Homo sapiens: one gene and its partners. The protein of the gene in region 3 purifies or fractionates together with the protein of the main gene of each other region. This does not show direct contact. Each region holds a gene or a part of one and is shown on either strand. Other genes may lie near its edges.

The links.
Region 1: the proteins of GAPVD1 (region 3) and ZDHHC5 purify together in Homo sapiens (co-immunoprecipitation; one large-scale study listed by IntAct). This does not show direct contact.
Region 2: the proteins of GAPVD1 (region 3) and PPP6R3 fractionate together in Homo sapiens (co-fractionation; one large-scale study listed by BioGRID). This does not show direct contact.
Region 4: the proteins of GAPVD1 (region 3) and CREB3L2 purify together in Homo sapiens (co-immunoprecipitation; one large-scale study listed by IntAct). This does not show direct contact.

Annotation. Positions count from the first base shown.
Region 1 is NC_000011.10:57,699,114-57,702,835, reverse strand, and holds the end of ZDHHC5 (palmitoyltransferase ZDHHC5), read right to left. Parts: coding exon 3,418-3,722; intron 2,971-3,417; coding exon 2,805-2,970; 3' UTR 1,654-2,804; downstream 1-1,653. UniProt on the Homo sapiens protein: Palmitoyltransferase that catalyzes the addition of palmitate onto various protein substrates such as CTNND2, CD36, GSDMD, NLRP3, NOD1, NOD2, STAT3 and S1PR1 thus plays a role in various biological processes including cell adhesion, inflammation, fatty acid uptake, bacterial sensing or cardiac functions.
Region 2 is NC_000011.10:68,467,252-68,471,904, reverse strand, and holds part of PPP6R3 (serine/threonine-protein phosphatase 6 regulatory subunit 3), read right to left. Parts: intron 1-4,653.
Region 3 is NC_000009.12:125,364,134-125,368,881, reverse strand, and holds the end of GAPVD1 (GTPase-activating protein and VPS9 domain-containing protein 1), read right to left. Parts: 3' UTR 1,675-4,748; downstream 1-1,674. UniProt on the Homo sapiens protein: Acts both as a GTPase-activating protein (GAP) and a guanine nucleotide exchange factor (GEF), and participates in various processes such as endocytosis, insulin receptor internalization or LC2A4/GLUT4 trafficking.
Region 4 is NC_000007.14:137,994,434-137,999,086, reverse strand, and holds part of CREB3L2 (cyclic AMP-responsive element-binding protein 3-like protein 2), read left to right. Parts: intron 1-4,653. UniProt on the Homo sapiens protein: Transcription factor involved in unfolded protein response (UPR).

The DNA of each region.
Region 1 (3,722 bases), on a different chromosome or scaffold from region 3:
TAGCTGGGACTACAAGTGTGCGTCACCACACCTGGCTAATTTTTGTATATATATATATATATTTTTTTTTTTTTTTTTTTTTTAAATTTTGGAGAAAGAGTCTTGCTCTGTCGCCCATGTTGGAGTGTAGTAGTGCAATCTCAGCTCACTGCAACCTGCACCTCCTGGGTTCAGGTGATTCTCCCACCTCAGCTTCCCAAATAGCCAGGATTACAGGCACCCATAACCAACGCCCAGCTAATTTTTGCATTTTTAGTACAGACGGGGTTTCACCATTTTGGCCAAGCTGGTCTTGAACTCCTGACCTCAGGTGATCCACCTGCCTTAGCCTCCCAAGGTGCTGGGATTACAGGTGTGAGCTACTGCACCCAAATAAGAGTATATATATATATATATATTTTTTTTTTTTTTTTTTTTTTTTTTTTTCCTGAGACGGAGTCTTGCTCTGTCACCCAGGCTGGAGTGCAGTGGCGTGATCTCGGCTCACTGCAAGCTCCGCCTCCCAGGTTCACGCCGTTCTCCTGCCTCAGCCTCCCAAGTAGCTGGGACTACAGGCGCCCGCACCACGCCAGGCTAGTTTTTTGTTATTTTTAGTAGAGATGGGGTTTCACTGTGTTAGCCAGGATGGTCTCGATCTCCTGACATTGTGATCAGCCCGCTTCGGCCTCCCAAAGTGCTGGGACTACAGGCGTGAGCCACCACGCCCGGCTAAGAGCTTATATTCTTAAATTTTGAGTAATTAAAGGGCTCTGGTCAACTGCTTGAGATTTAGTGTCTAAGGATACCTATTTAAAATTAGAGCACAGCTTTTGTCCAATAAAATGCAATATATCTAATTGAACTGACACCGATATCTAGTTAACCTGCCTTCAACAGGCTTTCATACCTGTTACTATGTCACCTTTGGCTGTTTCCAAAATTAGCTTTACTTTCCAGAGACTAAATCCTGTATTAAAAAACAACTGTAGCTGGGCATGGTGGCTCATGCCTGTAATCCCAATGCTTTGGGAGGCCAAGGCAGGATTGCTCAAGGCCAGAAGTTCGAGATCAGTCTGGGCAAAATTGGTTGAGAGTCTATCTCTACCAAAAAAAAAAAAATTAGCTAAGCATGGTGGCATGCAACTGTAAGTCCTAGCTTCACAGAAGGCTGAGGTGGGAAGATCCCTTGAGCCCAGGAATTTGAGGATATAGTGATCTGATTGTGCCACTGCCCTCCAGCCTGGGCAACCAGAATGAGGCCCTGTCTCTTGAAAGAAACAACTTTTAAGAGTTCTCTAAGCTTTCAAATAACAAGCAGTTTTGGTGATTTCAAGAGACCTTTTTTCAGGAATTTTTGAATTAAATCACCCAAATAAAAACAGGACCTGTTGTTTTTAGAAATGGAGTCTCTATGTTGCCCAGGTTGGTCTGGAACTCCTGGGCTCAAGTGATCCTCTTGCCTCAGCCTCCCTCAGTGCTGGGATTACAGGTATAAGCCACCGCACTGGGTCTCTTTTTTATTTTTTTAGTTGTTAAGTGGCTAATTTCATTATAGTCTTGCCTAAAGATGGGCTGGGACCAGAGAAGTTTATGAGGTTGTCACTGATAACTTCCCACCAGAGATCGTTCACCCTGTCTCAACCAGACAAAATAACACAAGTCAGGGGGCGCTGGTTAGATCAGGATTTCTTTTTATTCCTCGTTGGTTTAAAATGGCTAATCAGAATAAAAAATAAAAGGGCCTCTTTGTGGAGGCTGGGATCTCCCCTATTTAGAGGTTAGAACCCAGGTATCCCCTCTACCCAGCACCATAGTGAGGTGGGCTGAGGGGTAACCCCCAAGGGACAATCGGAGGGGCCTAGGCCTGCCACTCCTTCTCTCTATCCCCCGTTTTTGGCATGTGATGAAAAATATTGCTTTTTGGATTCTTCTCTCCTGGCCTTGGATTTTAAAATCAAGTTAACTGTGTAAGCTAGGGGAGGCTCCAAGGGGCCAGTAGGAGCACACTCTAATCCCTCTCCCCCAAGGAGGGGATTATCCAATATTGTTTGAGCTAGGCCAAGTTATTTTCCTGATCTCCCACCACCACCAGTGTCTTGAAGTTTTGACCCCTTTCCTAGGGAAACTAAATGCCAATGAGCCTAGAAAACTAATTCTCCTCTCCAAGTCCTTCCCTCTTGTGACCAAAATTCCAGACTCACCTCTCCCCAGGCTTCTTCCTAATCACACTTAGCACCAGCAGAGGATGCTATTTCCGTAGTTAGTAACTGGGACAAATGAGAGGGAACCACAGGAAAAAGACTGACGTCTCCCCTCTTTTCCTGCTGGTCTGAGGAATGGGAAGAGTAAGATCCCCCTCCGTATATGTATCCCTCCCTCATTTTCCCATCCCAGGATAGATATATAATTTCTTTGATATTTATAATATATATATATATATATTATATGTACACACACACCTGGTAACGCAGAAGAGGAAAAAAATAGAATCCGTAACAATAATAAAAAAAATTATTTCTGGTTTAAAAATGATCTGGTTCCCTCCAGGGCGAGCAATTGCACAAATGTCCACTGAGTCTGGTCCAGGGATCAAGGAAGGGAAGGTCTTAAAAGATAAAAGGGGGGGTTGCTACCCCAGTCTCAGGGCCCCAACTCTCCGACTCCCCAAGCCTACTGCATTTTAGAAAACACTCCTCATCCTCTTGGAATCGGTGGTTTAAAAAATGTCCATGCACGGGAGGGGAGCCCCTTGAGGGAAGGAAGGTGGCCACCTGGGGCCCTTTGGTGTAGGCGCAGAGGCGTTGGGGAGGGGAGGTGCCGAAGGCTCACACCGAAATCTCATAGGTGGTACCACCAACCCCTGACACCTTCTTGACTCCTCCCCTCGTGGGGCTACTGAGAGGTGGCTGGCCTGGGCCAGGGGAGGCTGAGCCTAAGCTCTTGGGCTGCCCGTTGGATTTGCTGTAGGTGGTCTTCAGCTGTACTTCATCTCTGGAAAGAAGAGACAAGACGTAGGTGTCAGGAAATGGGACAGAAAACATTGGAAAGGGAGACAGTTTCAAAGGTTCAGAGAAAAAAATGATGTTCTTTTCTATATCCATACTTTCTTACCCAAACATTCCCCTTTATTGCCCTGCTTAAAATAAGCCTGATTCCCAATCTCTCCTATGTACTACTACTCTCTAGTAACAGCTATCACATGTACTTACTCCCAAGCAAATACTTTTAGGAAGATAGCATTATGGAAAAAGTATTAATCTTCAGTCTCTTAACAGGAATTGCCCATGAAGGCAGGTAGAGTCAAAGTGAAAATAAAGAGCTACCAGGATACCCCTGGGTCCACCTACATTAGGATGTACAACAGAAGCCCTGATAGCTTTTGCAGAGCAGTATGCTAATTTGAAATTGGCTAAGGGTCAGGATAGTACTAATACTTACTTGGGTGTCAGTAATGGCTGCAAGGCCACTTCTTCTGTCTCAGAGACACCAGGTTGGGCTTTTTGGCTGCTGTAAGACATCGATCGGCCCAGGTATGGGGCTGTTGGGCCTGGTTCAGGGGACCCTACTCCCCGGCCCCTTAGCCCATCTGGCTTGCCAAAACGGGGGACAGCTGGGCGTCCCAGTGGAGTCTTGCCCAAAGGTGATCTCTTTGAATCATCTGAGGAGGAACTAGTACGAGGGGCATGGCCCGAGCCTGGTGTTGACTGAATGCCTGAGTCCCCCAAGCCTGGTTCTTCCTCACG
Region 2 (4,653 bases), on a different chromosome or scaffold from region 3:
ACATGCTCCCACTATCCCATCTCCCCTAGTCTGCTCTCCCTCCTCCTACCAGGGAGGAGCCCATGGATGCCAACTCTCCACATGGGCACCCACCCACTTCCTGCTGCCTTCCCAAGAATGTGGCTCCAGCAAGGGTCACCTCTTCTGATTCATCATGTCATTCATCCTCTGGAGAATTACTTCACCAACACTGCAAAAATGGTGTGGTTTCTCCCACCTCAACACCTCAGGATCCCAAATATCCCTTCATCACTGTGGCAAATCCCATGACGGAGCTCTACTTGCCTTTCTCTTCTCTCAATCCTTGTGAATGCTCCCTTCCAGGCTTTTCCTGCACCACCATGTGGGAACAGCTCTCAAGATCGTCGATGAATTCCACGCTGCCAGAGCCATGAGACGAGTCTTGGTCCTTATCTCAGGTGACCTCACGGCAGCAGCACTGGCAGAGGTCCCCGCTCCATCCTCCGTGACAACACTTTCCTAAGGCCTCAAAGCTGCTCCTTCCACCTTCTAGGCTGCCGTAGAGCCTCATTCCTTCAGTGCCTCACTCAACCTCGGGACTGTTAAATGCCACCTAAATATTGAAGACTCCTATTTCTTTTTCTTTTTTTTTTTTTTTTTTGAGACAGAATCTCGCTCTGTCACCCAGGCTGGAGTGCAGGGCGCGATCTCAGCTCACTGCAAACTCCACCTCCCGGGTTCATGCCACTCTCCTGCCTCAGCTTCCAGAGTAGCTGGAACTACAGGCACCCACCACTAAGCCGGCTAATTTTTTTGTATTTTTTTTAGTAGAGACGGGGTTTCACCATGTTAGCCAGGATGGTCTCATCTCCTGACCTTGTGATCCGCCCGTCTCAGCCTCCCAAAGTGCTGGGATTACAGGAGTGAGCCACCGCGCCCGGCCCAAAGACTCCTATTTCTATCTGCAGCCTAGATCTCTCCCTTGAGCAGTGAACACCCCAATCCAGCATATCTCCAATCTGCTCTCCAAAAGCTTCAGAAACTGAACATGCACAAAACCCAACTCCTGATCTTACTTCCACACGCTGTTCTTCCCAAGTCTTCCCTTTCCTTATACATGGCAACGCCCACCAGCTACAAAAATCCCTGGTATCATCCTTTACTCCTCTCTCACACCCACTCCAATCTGCCAGCAAATCCTGTCTGCTCTTCCTTTTCAAGAAGGATCCAGCAGCCAACCTCTTCTCACTCCCACCCCTGCTCCCCTTCAGTCCCAGCTGCCATTACTGCTCTCCTGGATCACTGCCAGAGCGTCCAACCTCCCTCCAGCAGCACAGGACAGTGGGACCTTTAGAAACCACATCATGTGACACCTCTGCTCAAAACACCAAATGACTTACCCATCTCACTCAGAGAAAAAGACAAAATCTTAACAATGGCCAGTGTGACCTACGCCCTCCCCCCATCTCCCCCATCCATCTGGCCTACCCTCCTCCCACTCTCCCTCAGGCTCCTCACTCCAGCCACACTGGCCTCCGCTGCCCCTCCAACACAGCAGACATGCCTCCTTCTTAGCACCTTGTCCTGCTGACCCTCCGCCTATAATGCTGCCCCTACCCCACTGCCACCCACAGCCTTGTGGCTGGGTCCCTCCACTCCTTCTGTTGACTGCTGTATTTCAATCTGCAGACAAGCACTCCCCCACACCCCACCTCTCCTGGTTTACTTTTCTCCCTGTTTGTATTACCATATGGCTACTGTATCTTTCATTTATCTGTTAACTGTCTTTCCCCTACCAAAATGTAAGCTCCATGAAAACAAGGACTTTTCATCTGCTTTGCTTACTGTTAACATGCCCAGCAGTAGAACAGTGTTTAAGACATGGTAAGTACTCAAACATCTGAATAAAAGGATCACAGAAACAATGTTGAGTGGGGGCAAAAAAAGAACAAAGTGACTCCATTTACATTGTCTAAAGGAATGCAAAAATGAAGTCACATTATATAAGGATACATTTATACTTTGCAACACCATAAAGTAAAGCAGAAAAATGATACATACAAGGTATTTGCCTTGGGGAGGTCAGAAAGAGGGAAGTGGTGAGACGAGGACACAGGGAGCCAAAGGTATGGCAACCTTCTATTTCCTAAGCTGGTTAGTGGGTACACAAGTGTCAGTTCTAATGTTTAATATCTGGGCACATGCTGATATATACTCTTTGAATTCATAGTCCAATTACAAGTTAAAATAAAAAAACAGATTAGAGGCCAGGCATGGTAGTTCACACCTGTTATCTCAGCACTTTGGGAAAACAAGGTGGGAGGACTGCTTGAGCCCAGGAGTTCAAGACCAGCCTGGGCAACATCGGAAGATCTTGTCTCTACAAGAAAAAAAAAAAAAAAATTACCTGGGTGTAGTAGCATGTGCCTACAGTCCCAGCTACTCGGGAGGCTGAGGTGAGAGAATCGTTTCAGCCAGGGAGGTCAGTCAAGGCTGCAGTGAGCTATACTGCACTCCAGCCTGGGACTCTATCTCAAAAAAATAAACAAAAACCACTGCACTCTAGCCTGGGATTACACCACTGCACTCCAGATTACACCACTGCACTCTAGCCTGGGACTCTATCTCAAAAAGATAAACAAAGACAAAACAGATTAGAGCAGGCATTGACAAACTACAACCCACAGGCCAAATCCAACTCTCTGTCTGCTTTTATAAGTAAAGTCCTATTGGAAGACAGCCACCTTCATTTGTTTACAGATTGGCTATGGCTGCTTTCACACTACAAAAGCAGAGATGAGTCCTTGCAGAGACCATTTAGCCTCCAATGCCTAAAATATTTACTAACTGGTCCTTTACAGAAAAAATCTGCAAACCCTCAATAGAGCTGTCTGGTTATAATGCAGAATTTGTAAAGAAATTAAGTGCAAAATCAAAAAGATCCAATCATCTGTTAACATATATTGATCCTTCAAGGCGTATGTGATTATCCACACTATGTTGAAAAAATGATTCTATATAAAATGTGAGACTCCACAGCAAAGTTACCCTACAACGTCCTGTGTGCCAGAAAAGAATAAACTTAAAAGATGTTTTAGAAAGCAAACTGCAAACCTCAAATTTATGATCTCTACTCCACCAGCAGAAATTATGTTATATATGTTCTAATGTTATATTCATATTCACAGTTATATACATTAAAACATATATAACATACTCCAAATTTGGAGGAAGAAAATTTGCATATCAACACTAACTCTGTAACCTCCCCAACACTGAAACCACCATCACCCTGACTTCCGCAGAGCAGCTGGTTAGACCTCGAGGCCTCTCTATGATCCTATAATACTCCATTTCTCTCCTTGAGATCATTCACTGCACCTTGGAGGTGTTTCTGTACTTTTGTTACAAAATACCATACCTATGATGGGAGGATCTCATAGCTGCTGAGTCCATCTAAGGGTGTAATAACAAGAAGTCCACAGTGAAAAGGGACAGTCATTCACAGAGTGTTGTTTACTCAGAAGGGGCAGGGTCTCACTTGCAGACAAAAGAGACAGATGAGACCTGTCCATTGTCCAAAGGCAATACAAACCCTGTGTATCTCTATGTCAACAAAAAAGAACTCCTCAACTACTATACAGTGACAAAAAACTGACACATACTACTACCAAAAATAAAATTCCAGACGTTAACCACTTATTCTGAATTCTAAGTAAAATCCAGCTGTGATGTCACTCTTGAAACAAATAGCACTTAAAACTGTGGTCTGGAACATCACAATCCTATGGAATCACCGGGGCTGAGATTTCTCTGCTCCTTCTGGTTCCATTCTTCTGCATGGCCTCCATTTTTCTGTAAGAATAAATGCGCTGGGCGTGGTGGCTCATGCCTGTAATTTCAACACTTTGGGAGGCCAAGACGGGCGGATCACTAGAGGTCAGGAGTTTGAGACCAGCCTGGCCAACATGGTGAAACTCCATCTCTACTAAAAATAAAAAATTAGCTGGGTGTGATGGCACACGCCTGTAGTCCCAGCTACTCGGGAGGCTGAGGCAGGAGAATCGCTTCAACCTGTAAGGCGGAGGTTGCAGTGAGCCGAGATCGCGCCACTACACTCCAGCCTGGGCGACAGACTGAGAGTCCATCTCAAAAAAATAAATAAATAGAAAATAAATGACGTCTAAGTGTTGTTGCAGCCCAAAACCATGATTCTCACGAATGGAAGCCTCAGTCAATTGTCAAGACTAGTCAGTGTTCCTCCCGCTACGCCCATCTGAGGACCAAAGCCCAACCAATCTGACCAGCCAACCATGGAGCAGGCAGTGTGAACTGCCCTGATTAGGGTCTCAGTGTGACATGTGTTCTCAGGCAAGCTCTTTTTTCTCAAAGTGTGTCTCTGCCACCAGAATTTTTGTTCAGATTTACATGTAGGTATAGGAAACCCAAGGCTCCAACTAACAGTCCCACACAGCTTTCTCCAAGTCTGTCTGACTCAACATCAGTCTGCAGCCGTTTTAGTCCTGCTCTCTAATGTTCCTAAAAACAATCTTTCATTCATCTTTTCTTGGGCCATCAGATTTCACGGTAGTCAATCTCTGGGGAATTCAAATCACTTCAAGTCACTATGTATTTCCACTGTAAGAAATTCTGGAACTAATAATCCCGTGGTTTTCCCCAGAGTTACTGTGA
Region 3 (4,748 bases):
AGCCTCCCAAGTAGCTGGGACTACAGGGATGTGCCACCATGCCTGGCTTATTTAAATTTTTTTTTTTTTTTTTTTTGTACAGACCAGGTCTCATTGTTTCCCAGGCTGGCCTCAAATTCCTGAGCTCAAGTGATCCTCCCGCCTTCGTTTCCCAAAGTGCTGGGATTACAGGCATGAGCTAAAACACTTTCTCTGGGCATGGGTCTTTTTTTTTTTTTTTTTTTTTTTTAAATCTATGGGCTATATTTTACTACCCTAAGTGGATGGAAAGGATTCTTCTGGAATGAAATAAGTGAAGCAAAAGCTCTTCGCTGAATACTTCAATCCTTAGGTGGAGGACACATTTATGGCCAAGAGGAGCTTCAGCCCTGGTTTCTCTCTACAGGATCACCACCCATTTTGCAGCAGTATGGCAGGCAGGCTCGTGAAGCTAGTGTCAGTAGCTCAGCATCCTGTGAGGAAAAGCTACGGAGCCCTGTACTTGCGGAAAGGGTTGAGTGGGTACAAGCGTAACAGCAGTCCAAGCGACACAGGTAAATTCCAAGTTGGCAAGAAAAGCTGAATGCTATTTTTGGTTCTAGGCGTCATACCACTCGTTTTAATATTGAAGAGTGGGCCGGGTGCGGTGGCTTACACCTGTAATCTCAGCACTTTGGGAGGCCGAGGCAGGTGGATCACCTGAGGTCAGGGGTTCGAGACCAGCCTGACCAATATGGCGAAACCCCGTCTCTACTAAAAATACAAAATCAGCTGGGCGTGGTGGCGCATGCCTGTATTCCAGCTACTCAGGAGGCTGAGGCAGAACTGCTTGAACCTGGGAAGCGAAGGTTGCAGTGAGCCAAAATCGAGCCATTGCACTCCAGCCTGGGTAACAAGAGCAAAACTCTGCCTCAAAAAAAAAAAAAAAAATACTGAACAGAGCAAATGGAAATGGGCCGTAAGCAAGTTTTTAACTATTTCCTTCTAAATGAAGTGCAATCAATATAAGAAAAGCGCCTTCTCACCAGCAAGGGAAGCCTGAAGAATGAGTTAGTACTCCTTGTCAAAAGTAACTTCCCTTGGCTGGAAAGATTAATAAAGGCCTAAATGAATATTGTGATTAGATGGCAACACTTTTGCTTTCAAAATGAAAAATGATAAATAGCTACCAAATATAGGCATTAGGCAGAAACTGTTAAATCCATAGATGAAGGTCTGGGTGCAGTGGCTCACGCCTGTAATCCCAGCACTTTGGGAGGTTGAGGCGGGCAGATCGCTTGAGCTCAGGAGACTGGGCAACATGGCAAAACCCTGCCTCTACAAACAATACAAATATTAGTCAGGTGTGGTAGCGTATGCCTGTTGTCCCAGCTACTGGGAAGGCTGAGGCTGGAGGATCTTTGAGAACAGGAGGCAGAGTTTGCAGTGACCCTAGATCCTGCCTCTGCACTCCAGCCTGGGCGACAGAGCCAGGCCCTGTCTCAAAAAAAAAAAAAAAAAAACCCTTAGATGTTCACCATTGTGTTAGTTACTGCCAGGTCATTCTAGTTCCTTCTTGTGCCATACTTAGCAAACACCCTTATTGTTCAGATAAAAAAGATGTGTGTGAATTCACGGAGAACATCAGAACATTCGGAAGTCAAATACGTTTTCAGAAATGCTTCTGAATATAAAATAGATGACAGAAACATAAAACCCTGTGAATCAAACTGCTCTCCCCTTTTAATCAGTTTTATAGAATATTTTACAGTACTAATCACATTAGGAGACAGGAGGGGTTTCCTGTACATATACAAGATTGTGCAAGCTCATTAATTGAGACTTATAGAAAGGTTTTATCTGTTTCAAAAGAGGCAGTACAGCTTTTTAATCCAGGTGAAGCACAAGAAGAATCCAGTAGACAGGAGAGTATTAATTTGACAGAGGTGAATTCCCCTAGTGCATGGCCGCTACCCACACTGTCTGCCATTATCCAAGTGGAGACGTCATCTCTCTTGAATTGAACCCTTGCTGAGCTCAGGCCTGTGGGATGCGGCAGCTCCAGGGTCACTCCATAGCTCAACCACAACTTAACACGGAAGCAAACTATATTTTCATTTATCCAAGTGTTCTCAAGAGTAATAAAGCTATTCCTTGTCCTACTACTTTCTAACCTACATTCTAAAATATATTAAGTAATTTTTAACCTGGCAAAGTTCTCAAGCATTTTGGCATTTAAAGTAATCGCAAATACCTCATCACTGTTAATCCACTTACTAAAAATCCTTTGGGCTTCAAGATAGTTTCAGATTTACTTCCCTTAAAATTAAAGCAATTGCGTACAAAATAAACTCACTAGACTTAAATATTTAAAAAGAGAGACAACAGCCTTTTCTTTAAAGAAACAAAGCAGGAAGAGATGGGAGAGAAAAATCTAGGAAGCACCAATTGAGGAAGTGAACCCCACTACACTTCTATCACTTTTATGCAATCCAGTAATAATTCTGAGTGTATTCCTACTTTCCCTCTTCACACCCAATCACATAGGAGAAAAACAATTTTAAAACACCTAGTTGACCTTACTCGGTCCAAAGTGGAAATTTCCATGGCAAACAATAGGAAAAAGAGTGCCCGGGTTCAGCACACCAGTCAGCTACAGATTCTTACGGCAAGAACACAGCCCCCGTATTGGGGCTGAGATTGTTCTCTTGCTCACGCACCTCAGGGACACATTTGTAAAGCCCACTTTAAACAAAGGCTTCCAGGACATAGGAATAGAAAAACCATGCAGCACATTTGCAATCCCTTAGAAAACCTGAGCCTCCTACTACAGCGATTTAACTATCTGTATCAGAAGGCCTTCATAAGCAGGTTTTTATAAAGAAAAAGCAGAAGAAAGCAATTACTGTGGCTGAGATTTTACCTAAAATGGAGAAAGAAAGCAAAATGTTTGACACGTTTAAATATATATACATATAATTTTGTGGTTGGGCACGGTGGCTCACGCCTATAATCCCAGCACTTTGGGAAGCCGAGGTAGGCGGATCACTTGAGGCCAGGAGTTCGAGACCAGCCTGGCCAACATGGCGAAACCCTGTCTCTACAAAAAATACAAAAATTAGCTGGGTGTGGTGGCATACACTTGTAATCTGAGCAACCAGGGAGGCTGAGCCATGAGAATCACTAGAGACTGGGAGATGGTGGTTACAGTGAGCCGAGATCACAGCACTGCACTCCAGACTGGGTGACAGAGCAAGACTATGTCTCAAAAAAAATTAAAATATAATTTTGTAAGTAAAGACAATCTTCAACTTGTATTTCTATTACTTCTAAAAGCAGAATATTAATACAAAATGCAAACCTGATTTTTCTTTTCCTCAGAGAAGTTAATCCTACAAGATTTCAGGGGACCTGAGCCAACTCTCTCTCCATTTAACATCCACTTTATAAATTCTATGTAGTAACTAGTGGCTGCTGAATGTTTCCTGGGCTGATTTTGTACTTTTACACTAATCTTTCATGTAAAGAAAGTACTGGAAGGCAGTGGAGGAAGAAACATTTGGGGAACAACTATTCCTCTTTTCTATTAAAAAAAAAAAAAAAAATCAAATCACTCCCCATCTCACATACCTGTCAAGAAATCAAACAGTGATGGTTAATGCCAAAGTAGTCCTTGCTCCTGACAGATTTTCAGAGGAAACCTTAGCTGCCCCTGCAACAGCTGTGCTGTGCTCCTCCGCCAGCTATGGAGTCATGAGCACCCGAACCCATTTCACAGGTGTCACAGATGTCAAATCTCTGGGGGGTCTACCCTCAGCCCCGGCTCCAACACAGCACAGCCCTATCTCCTGCCTCCAGTGTAGCCCTTCACCCCAATCCCACCACCTTCTCTTCCACAGAAAAGAGCCCCGATGCAATGTCCACATCTTCATATTTATTTCCACAGTGTTAACATGGAATAGACTTAGCAACCATTGCAGAGAAAAAAAAAATCTCTCATTGGTTTATGAGTTAAATCCTGTAACAATGAATTTCAACCATTCGAAGTCTTCTGCTGCTTAACATTTACTGAATCAAAGGCTGAAGTAAATGGACTCTCATCTAGGTCTCAGAAATCACACAGCTGGCCTCGTGATGTATTTACGATGGGATTTAACTTCTAATACAAGGCAAGTTTGACAGTTACAGCCAATGAAGTGCACGACTCTGTACATGGATTTCTTGACCTAACATTCAAAAGGACATTTCATAGTACTAGTTTAATTCTGATCTCTCTCTAGAAGGCAGAAACCACATCCCACACTCCTATGCAATTTGTTATTTTGGTATTGTAAAGTAAATGAATAAGAAGGGGTGGAGGCATAAAGAAAATCTAGTTTCTGGCTGGGCAGGGTGGTTCACGCTTGTAATCCCGCACTTTGGGAGGCCAAGGCGGGTGGATCACGAGGTCAGGAGATTGAGGATCATCCTGGCCAACATGGTGAAACCCCGTTTCTACTAAAAATACAAAAATTAGCCGGGCTTGGTGACATGCGCCTGTAGTCCTAGCTACTCGCGAGGCTGAGGCAGGGGAATCACTTGAACTGGGAGGTGGAGGTTGCAGTGAGCCAAGATCGCACCATTGCACTCCAGCCTGGGCAACAGGGTGAGACTCTGTCTCAAAAAAATAAAATAAAATAAAATAAAAACAAAGAAAAAAAAATAAAATCTTTAGGCATTCCCAGACACAAAGATCTCAGAGACAGACAACAGAGAGCCTCCGTGTTCATCTGCCCGAGGCTGTTTGTCAC
Region 4 (4,653 bases), on a different chromosome or scaffold from region 3:
TCATTTTGGTGAGTTATTTGTCTTATAAACTCTGGGTGCTTCTGAGACACCAGTGCCTGTTTTTGGAATGATTTCATAAAACTTTCCAAGTTGAAGAGAGCCTGAGGGGAGGGTGAGGTTCAAATACGAGTTGTGAGGGTGGTAAGAGATGATGACAGCTACCATCTATTGAGTGTTTATCATCCGAAAGGCAGGGCTGACCACATGGCCTGCCACCCATGCAGTGCCACGGGGTCCACACTTGGTTTGATGCTGTGCTGTCACCATCTTGAAAATCTTAATTCTTTTTGAACTGGGGACCTTACATTTTCATTTTGCACTGGGTTTCACAAATTACGTAGCTGGTCCTGCTGAAAGACATTGTGTCTAGTGCTTTACAAATATTATGCCATTTAACCCTTGTAATGACCCAGTGAAATGAGCCATTTTTATTACTTTTATTTTACATATAAGAAAAATGAGGCTTCGTGAGTTTAAGCCACTTGGCTCAGTTCCCACAGCTATTTAGTGATAGAACCAGGATTCAAACCCATGTTTGCCTGCCTGCAAGTACTTGCCTATCAGGCTGTCTGAGTGAAGAATCCTGACTTAAAGAGAAGGAACTGAATAAGAGGTTGGGAGAGAGTGATTGGAATATAGGAACTGCTGAGCCTGAAAGCAGCTAATGTTTAAATGAGGCTGACAGTGGCAGCCACCAAACCTTCCTAGTGAGATCACTTTTGTTGCTCTTACTAGGGATTTAGTTACTACATGCATGATTGCTAATGCTCTGTTTTAGCAAACCTGTCACATACTTGATTTAAACAATTTAGAATGTTCAAGTTACCCAAGGCTGAGATTATGATGTTTCTCAGGAGCCTTCTGTTAACCGTTAGGAGCAATGTTTTTTTTCATTTGGTTAGTTATGAAGACATCTTGGTCTACAAGGACAAAGGCAGACAGGTTCAGAGTCTACAAAATAATGAAGCATATGGATAGGGCAAAGATGGACTGATCATTAGATCCTGAATTGCTAAAGCTCTGGGCTTCCTCTTGAAGCTTAAAAAATTGTTTCCATACAGATGATGAAATGTTATTTTAATTCAGTGAGTACTGATTTTAGGAAAGCTGTTGCTTCAAGATGGAATACAGGCTAAAATTGGTTCAGAAAAGATGGCAAATCTAGAAATCAGGAGAATATCTCTTGGGGTTCGGTACCACCGTGAGAAGAAACCTTGCCTCTTTCCCCAGACCTGCCTGTATGTTGGACATTTCTGCCATTTGTATTGTATTCCTATAAAATTCTCTGAAAATTACTTTCTGGGAATTGTCTGTGCTTTTGTAATTTCTATTTTATTTTATTTTATTTTATTTTATTTTTGAGATGGGTCTTGTTCTGACACCCAGACTAGAGTGCAGTTGCTCAATCATGGCTCACTGCAGGCTTAACCTTCCAGGCTCAAGTGATCCTCCCACCTCAGCCTCCAGAGTAGCTGGGAGTATCAGTGTGTGCCACCATGCCTGGCTAATTTTTTTCTTCTTTTTTTTTGGTAGAAACGGGATCTCAGTATGTTGCCCAGGCTGGTCTCCAACTCCTGGGTTTAAGGGACCCTCTTGCCTTGGCCTCCCAAAGTGCTGGGATTACAGGTGTGAGCCACTGTGCTCAGCCCCCTTTTGCAATTTAAAGAGCAAAATAATCTATAAATTTTAAAATGTATTTTATATATGTATAAACTGTATCTGGAAGGATGCTCAAGAAGTGGATAATTTTTGGGAAAGCAGCTTGGGGAAGTGGAAGTCAAGAGATGAAGGGAAGCATGTCTACACACTATACCTGTTGGTACTATTCAGATTTTTACCTCGTCACTATGTCTAGAAAATGGAAGAAATACAACTTGTAGGCACCATGTAAAACTGGACTAGAGGTAATTTTCAACCAAGTGTTCTTGGGGGAAAAAGGGAGCTTCAGTACTATATAGAAACTCAACACCACTCAAGGTCAGTGGAGGCGTTGGATGAAGAACAGGGGAAGTGGGAAGGCCCCATGGAAAGAGGCTTTAGGGGGAGAGGTTGGCAGGTGGTTTGCCCATGATAAACATCAAGATCTTGATAATGTTCTCCTTTCTTCTATCTCAGTTTAGCCATCTGGAAAATAAAACAATTTTTGCAATTTTCGCCATGATTATATCCTTTTAAAAAAGTGTATCATAAAAACTAAGTCTTTGTGAAAGTAACAACAGAAGTTCTGCTTGTTTAAAATGCAGAATTCCTATAAAGCCAAGTTATTTGTAAAATCATTTGGTGGTTATGCTAATACAGTTTTATATCTGGTTGGTTCTTCAAGTGAAACCACTGGTCCCAGACAGTGGTAGGTAGGGAGTTGGGGGAATATTCGACCTGCCTGGTGTCCAGATGGAAAGGCCATCTGGCTTCCATGTCTTACTGAGTGCTGAAAAGGAGTTGGCTGATCTCACAGACTGTGTGGTTTCCTGTTCCTCCCGCCTGGCCCGGAGAGTGATATGATTTCAATGCGATATTGAAGCTTTTGGTTTGATGTTCCACTTTGGAGTTAACTCCTAGGGTTGGCCCCAGGCCAGGTTCTGAAGGGGCACCCGGGTCCTCATTGGCTGAGAATGTTATTACTTATGGTCACATGACCTCCACAAGCTGAATAAATGTAGTGAGTTCTAACGGGAGACAGAATTGGGAAGTAAGTATAATTTTTCCAGACCCTTGTGGCACCTTTCAACATTCTCGCCCCTTTTGTGTTCCCCTCCTTTCTTAGACATCAAGTGTTCACTGTAATGTTCTCTTTCCAATTTCATCCCTTCAAATTTTGCTGTCAGGAAAGATTTGATAAGCTTTCACTAGAAATTTTAGTGTTAGTAAGATTTAACATGTTAACCCTAAATGGGCATTTATATTTAACAATAATTACTTCAGGTCAAAAGGGTGAATCTCCACTTGGAGAACCTAGGGCGATAGCCAGGTAGTAGTGGGCGAATATTTGGGGAATGGGAGAGGAACCCTCACTGCCCTCCATTATTTCATAATGTGGCTCTTATTCATAAGGCAGCCTTGTTTATGTGTTGCTAATTTGTCTATGATCTAGAGGATTTCCCTTGGCTTAGCAAAAAATCTTTGACGGATTATTTTACTGTCTCTGAAATTGTTCTCATGATAGTAACATTGGTTGGGAGGTGGTAGACATAGGCACAGTCCTGAAAGATGAGAGGGCAGTACAGAGTTTTATATTTGCCCTCCTTCTCGAATGATCCCTGAGTTACAGTGTTCATGGGAAACAGGGGTCTCTGATGTGACATTGCTTTTGCAGGAGTTATAAGATATAGCATCTAGATTAATAATTGAATTAATTACAGTGCTTGCAGCTAGAAGTAACTGAAAATGGATTCAGATCGGCTCATACAGTAAGTAAATTATCTCATGTTGCAAGAGGTTGTGAAATAGAGCCCCTGGCCGGGCGCGGTGGCTGACGCCTGTAATCCCAGCACTTTGGGGGGCCAAGGCAGGTGGATCACAAGGTCAGGAGTTCAAGAGCAGCCTGGCCGAGATGGTGAAACCCTGTCTCTACTAAAAATACAAAAATTAGCTGGGCGTGGTGGCGGGCGCCTGTAATCCCAGCTACTCGGGAGGCTGAGGCAGGAGAATCCCTTGAACCTGGGGGGTGGAGGTTGCAGTGAGCCAAGATCATGCCACTGCACTCCAGCCTTGGTGACAGAGTGAGATTCTGTCTCAAAAAAAAAAAAAAAAAAAGAAAGAAAAGAAAAAAAAAGAAATAGAGCTCCTTGTTGGCTGATTCAGCAGTTCCTCAATGGACCTTGGTTCTGCCCATGTGCAGCTTTCATCCTCAGGTTGGATGTGTGATGGACATAGGAGTTACAGGGGTTACATTCAAAATGACAACATCCAGAGGAAGAAGAGAAGTTGTCTCTTTCTTGTGTCCCTTTTTTAGAATGGAAGAAACTTTTCTTACTAGCCCACTAGCTGATTTTTCTTAAAGCTTTATTGGTAAGGATTCGGTCATATGACCATTCTTAAGCCAATGGCTGGAAAGGAGAATGGGATTTATATTATCAGCTTAGATTAATCATATGGGGATGGAGACTCAACCAGCATGACCATTGGGATCATTAGTAAAATAGTCTGAGTTAACAATTCTTTCCTTAGTCAAAAGGTATGTTTCTTTTCTCATGAACATGGGCTAGCAACTAGAAAATTTAAAATTCACAGTAATTTGCCCTGGGCGCAAAACAGTAAACCCAAGTACTGTGCCACTCGCAGAGTTCTTTTGTTTTTTGTTTTTAAATAGAGACAGGGTCTCCTTATGTTGCCTAGGCTGGTCTTGAACCCCTGGGCTCAAGGGATCCTCTGCCTCGGCCTCCCACAGTGCTAGGATTACAGGCATGAGCTATCACGTCCGGCCCAGCAAAGTTCTAAGAATATTATTTAGCTGTGCTACCAATGCCCAGTGAAAGAAGACTATAGATGTAGAAATAGCCTCTTGAAAGTGCAGGGAAAGGCTAGGGAGGGGTGGGAGCCAGGAGGAGATTATGGCTATGTCTTGACTCACTAACTAGGAGATGTAGAATTAACTGTATTATCTGGACTCTTGGCGTCAGAGTAGAATACCAGGGCTGGAGGTAGCTAGCTGAG